2 separate regions of the Homo sapiens genome follow, and region 2 is linked to region 1. Evidence: fine-mapped expression QTL. A gene starts in region 1. The other region holds a variant in brackets. All regions are shown on one strand. Distances are between the middles of the regions.

Region 1 (2,911 bases):
ACACCTGTCATCCCAACTACTCGGGAGGCTGAGGTGGGAGATATGCTTGAACCTGGGAGGCGTGGTTGCAGTGAGCTGAGATTGGGCCACTGCACACCAGCCTTGGGCGACAGAGCAAGACTCCATATCAAAAAAAAAAAAAAAAAAAAAAAGCAGGCTGTCCACTTAGATTAAAAAAAAAACCCAGAGATATGCTGTTTACAACAGTATATAAAATATGAGCATACAGAAAAGTTAAAACTTAAGAATATGAAAAACGTTTGAAGCAAGTATCAAAACACAGCGGCCGTGGCTAAATTAATGCCAGAGAAAAGAAAAGTCTTCTCTCTTCATCTCTACCTCCACTAACTTTCTCTAACAGTTTGGCAATTTGTTAACCCCGTCTTCCTGCCAGGACTGCTTCTCTGAGGATAAGGCTGTCACACCATCATTTGGATCCACCCACAACTTAGAACAGTCCCCATTTGGTAGTAAACACCAAGTAAAAATAGTTACTTTAGGCCGGGCGCGGTGGCTCACGCCTGTAATCCCAGCAGTTTGGGAGGCCGAGGCGGGTGGATCATCTGAGATCAGGAGTTCGAGAGCAGCCTGGCCAACATGGAGAAACCCTGTCTCTACTAAAAATACAAAAATTAGCCGAGCGTGGTGGCACGCGCCTGTAATCCCAGCTACTCGGGAGGCTGAGGCAGCAGAATCGCTTGAACCCAGGAGGCGGAGGTTGCAGTAAGCCGAGATCAGAGATCCGCGCCACTGCAGTCCAGCCTGGGCGACAGAGCAAGACTGTCTCAAAAGAACAAACAGTTACTTTAAGTGCTCTCCACCTATTTAACGTTATTTCTCTGTCATCACCAATGTTAACTGATTCGGAAGGACGAGGCTGTTCCTCTAAGGTGACACCTTGTAAAAGTCGTTGGTCGCCTGTACCATTTTCACCTCTTCCAAAGTGACATGCCAATTCTCTGAGAGAAGCTTAAAATGCTAGAGATCACGTGCGGCTACTCCTAAATAAGGCCTTCCAGGAGGCGCAGGGTGGCCCCAACCCAGCCGGCTGGACCGCCTCCCAGCGCACGGAGCAGGCAACGCCCGGCTCTGGCAATCTGGGAAGATTCCAGGAAAGGAAGAAAAGGCCAAGAGCACTGCAGGGTGACGCACCGGCCAGGAATGCTCGTTCCGAAAGCTCCCCGAACCTCTGAAGCTCACCTGCCCGCGGAGACTCCAGGTGTTCCCAGCAGCAGCCCCTCCAGCCAACTGCCCAGCAGCGAAGCTTGAGGCTCTGGCCGGAAGTGCTGTAGGAAGTCCCGCCTCCACCGGAGTGAGGTACGGCTGCTGGAGCATAGACGAGAATGTCAGCGACAGTATTGGAGGCCAGAGGAGTGGTCAGCCCACCCAAGCCCCGCCTCTGGGCGGGGGCCCAAGCGATTTCCGAGTGCTGAAACCTGGGATGACAGAGCAGCCCAGGGAAAGCGCGTGTTCCAGTTTACTAGATACCACAGAAGTGAGTTACAAATCCTGTAAGAGGTTCAGTTCCATGCGTATTGAGAGTCTACCACGTAGGCAGCATGCGGTGGTCAAAGAGAAGAATATAGTGTTGATACCGCCAAAACTAAAAAAAAAAAAAAAATTACCTAGTTAAAGCATAAGGCAGAATGAAAGTAAATGCAGTGATAGAAAAAATAATAGAAAAAGCAACTATCCTAGACATGTTAATTTCTGTTGAAACCGCCTTTGCAAAATTTTGACAGTAAGAGAAATCTGACATGGTTTACTCCTATCTTGATTCTAGCCTCACAGACTGGCTGTCTTTGCTCATTCCTGGGCACAGGACAAACTAACTTTGGGAGAAATTTAGTTTATAGTTTAAATGATAATAACCCTTCCCCAAAACTGCCCTTTTAAAACTAAATGAAAGGCCACCAAGTTAGGAGAATGAGAGGGTCCTGAATTCTTCTAAGTTGTAATTGTAGTTAAATGATTACCACCCATTATTCCACAGGTCACAAATTCGCATCTTCCCCAATCATTCCTGCAGATAACATCACTGTTGTAGAACCTAAGATTGGCCTTTTGAGATGTCTTTTCAGGTTTTTGCATTTCTGACAAGTGGATGGCCCCACCCTGACTCATCAACCTGGGGATCCACGAACCAACTCAGTGCAAGAGGACAGCTTCTACTTCTTATGATTTCACCTCTGACCCAACCAGTCAGCACTCCCCATTCCCTGGCCCCGTACCTGTCAAACTATCTGAAAAACCCCCTAACCTCTGAGCCTTTGGTGAGATGGATTTGAGTAACAACTCTGTCTCCCACGTGGCATGGCCAGCCTCGCGTCAATTAAACTTTCTTTACTGCAATGCCATGGTTTCTGTCAATTAATTTTGTTTGTGCAGCAGGCAGAAAGAACCCATTGGTGGATACCACAGACTCCACAACAAGAGCAGTTTGGGTAGAGTGAGTGTTAGCATTCCAAAACCAGACTGAAGTGAGGTGAAGTGGAAAGGAAATTGAGGGAGCAAAGCCAAATGACTCTTCCAAGAAGTGACCTTCTAATTGTCATATTAAATGGACACAAACAGTCAGTATCCTGCTGGATGTCTCTACTGTTTTATACTTTGATAGTTCACTCCTTGAAACTAGAAACTAGATATTACAGTGATTGTTTTTTCTTTGGAAGAGGGGATTAAAAACCACATTGGAAATCTGATAAAAGCTATCTACCTACACACAAATTTTGCGTATGATTTCAAGGACTGATTAATCCTTTGAAGCCCATGAATAGGCCTCAAAGGAATCCATGGATCCCAAACTAAGACTCTCCTCAGCAGGGCACGGTGGCTCACACCTATAATCCCAGCATTTTGGGAGGCCGAGGCAAGCAGATCACTTGAGCTCAAGAGTTCAAAACTAGCCTGG
Region 2 (2,911 bases), 35 kb before region 1:
TCACGCCACTGCACTCCAGCCTTGGCCACAGAGTGAGACTACATCTCAAAAAAAAGAAAAAAGTCCTTTCACTGGAGGGTTTGTAAGGTCATGGTCCAGGTACCTAAGGAATCTGTGGGCCTGGCTAAAATATTTCTCCCTAACCATATAACCTGAACAGCTCTGAACAAATTCAGAGATGGCAAGTCTACAAGTAGAGTTGGCCTTTTAAGAACACCCTGACTTTCTAAAATTATGAAATAGTGGACCAGGAGATATGCTGTGTGGTTACCTAATTCTGACCTTCATTTTAAAGGTTAGTAAACTTGTCTTGTTCAGGACCATAAAGACTGTTAAAAGTGGGGCTGGTGCAGTGGCTCACATCTGTAATCCCAGCACTTTGAGAAGCCGAGGTGGGAGGATCGCTTGAGGCCAGGAGTTTGAGACCAGCCTGGGCAGCATAGAAAAACTTCATCTCTTTTTTATTTTTATTTTTTTAAATTAGCTGGGTGTGCTGGTGCACGCCTGTAGTCCCAGCTACTCAGGAGACTGAGGCGCGAAGATCACTTGAGCCCAGGAGTTCAGGGTGACAGTGAGTCATGATCATGCCACTGCATTCCAGTCTAGGCGAGACAATGTCTCAAAAAATAAACAAATAAACCAACCAAACAAACAAAAAAGACTGTTAAAAACAGGCTAGAGGCCCCCTGATTTCCAGGGCAGTATTGTGTTCACTGTACCATACTTAAGGAAAAACAGCTTACTAGGGAAAGATCGTTTTCAGAAATTGAAAACTAATAAAAATCAACAACAACAACAAAAATTTAGAAGACAGGCTCTGCCTGAAGGCTCCCCAGCACCCTTTTCAGGGCTTCATGCAGTTTTTCTGACATCAGGCGATCAAAAATAATAATAGAAATGCAATGTGACAGGCCGGGCGTGGTGGCTCACACCTGTAATCCCAGCATTTTGGGAGGCTGAGGCGGGCGGATCACAAGGTCAGGAGTTCGGGACCAGCCTGGCCAATATGGTGAAACCTCGTCTCCACTAAAAGTACAGAAATTAGCCAGGCGTGGTCGTGGGCACCTGTAATCCCAGCTACTCAGGAGGCTGAGGCAGGAGAATTGCTTGAACCTAGGAGGTGGAGGTTGCAGTGAGCTGAGATTGTGCCACTGCACTCCAGCTGGGCGACAGAGTGAGACTCCGTCTCAAAAAAAAAAAAAAAAAGACAAAGAAATGCAATGTGACATGTAACTCTTCCTATGATAAGAAATTTATTTAATGGTGGCTCAACATTCCACTATTCAGATGTTCTGTATTTTGTGTAATCAATTCCTTCTTACTGGAAATCTAGGCTGTTTCTCTTTTCTATTATTTACTTACTGGATTGTAAATTGGTAATGAGCCAGAAAGGTTTACATTCATCCAATTTAAAGGACTGTTAAAAAAAAAAAAAAAAAAAAAAAGGACGAAGAAAGCAACGCCATGCATAAGGTCAAGAGTCAGAATTTTTTTAAAAAAGGGAAAAATGCTACAAACAGCAGCAATTAAGCCACAAATAAAATAACTGCCTTTTTGGAATACAACAAATTCCATAATATAACTACTCCATGAGCCAAACATTTCTTCCTCTCCATCCCTCCTTATTCAAGTATTAAATATAATCTTGACTAAATGACCGTG[C/A]TGATTCATAATGAAAAGTTACCTGCATTTAAAATACACAGTCCCTTCGTGGCTCCCATCATGCTTTCCTCTCTCGGGATTGTCCCATTCTACTCCTAACCAGGGTCCTAGCAGAACAAGAAAAACCAAATGAGTAACAGATGATGATACAGGCAATGCTCCAGTTTTCTGCAAGCAAATACCAATTTGCAGCGGAAACCATATCACACAGATACCACTTGGGGAGGAGGGAATGGACAAGTTAGCCTTATACTCAGGACTTCAATCAGCAAATGCCATAGCATGTCTGGGTGAAAAAGCCAACAAAAACCACCACTCCAGAAAACAAGAATGGCTAAAATTTATTGAGCACACTAAACAAAACTGACCCTTGAGGACATTACACTAAGAGAAATAAGCCACCATAAAAGGACAAATACCATATTCCACTTATATGAGATACTTAGGGTAGTTACTACTAAACTGTACATTCAAAACTGGTTCAGATGGTAAATTTTATGTTACGTATATTTCACCACAATTTAAAATGTTAAATTGAAAAGTGGTTAAAATGGCAAACTTTATGTTATGTATGTGGCTACAATAAAAATTAAAAAAAAAAAAAAAGCCCAGGCACAGTGGCTTACGCCTGTAGTCCCAGCACTTTGCAAGGCCAAAGTGGGCGGATCACCTGAGGTCAGGAATTCGAGACTGGTCGAGACTGGCCTGACCAACGTGAAGAAACCCCATCTCTACTAAAAATACAAAATTAGCCAGGTGTGGTGACACATGACAGTAATCCCAGCTACTCGGGAGGCTGAGGCAGGAGAATCACTTGAACCCGGGAGGCGGAGGTTGCAGTGAGCCGAGATCATGCCACTGCACTCCAGCCTGGGCAACAAGAGCAAAATTCCGTCTCAAAAAAAAAAAAGGCTGGGCACAGTGGCTCACGCCTGTAACCCCAGCACTTTGAGAGGCAGAGGCAGGCGGATCACGAGGTCAGGAGTTCGAGACCATCCTGGCTAACACAGTGAAACGCCGTCTCTACTAAAAATACAAAAAATTAGCCAGGCACGGTGGCGAGCGCCTATAGCCCCAGCTACTCCGGAGGCTGAGACAGGAGAACGGCGTGAACCCGGAAGGCGGAGGTTGCAGTGAGCCGAGATCACGCCACTGCACCCCAGCCTAGGCGACAGGGCGAGACTCCATCTCAAAAAAAAAAGAGGAAAAATAATTTTTTCCTTCAATTTCAGCAAAAACCCAATAAAGG

What was found. PIP is the estimated chance that this variant, and not a neighbour inherited with it, causes the effect.
Region 2: its variant is fine-mapped to the expression of TBCE in whole blood (TOPMed, PIP above 0.99).

What each region holds. Positions count from the first base shown.
Region 1 is chr1:235,365,794-235,368,704 of GRCh38, reverse strand. It overlaps TBCE (tubulin folding cofactor E), which reads right to left and starts at 1,278. Exons shown (of 17, transcript NM_003193.5): 1 at 1,201-1,278. LOC124904559 (a long non-coding RNA gene) reads left to right here and starts at 1,285. Exons shown (of 2, transcript XR_007066957.1): 1 at 1,285-1,495; 2 at 2,082-2,352. RefSeq lists enhancers at 979-1,318, 858-1,571.
Region 2 is chr1:235,400,361-235,403,271 of GRCh38, reverse strand. It overlaps TBCE (tubulin folding cofactor E), which reads right to left. Exons shown (of 17, transcript NM_003193.5): 3 at 1,685-1,769. Among named protein-coding and RNA genes, the nearest start is that of TBCE, 34 kb to the right of the region's middle. RefSeq lists an enhancer at 2,641-2,911. The variant C/A (reference allele first, on the strand shown) is at 1,663.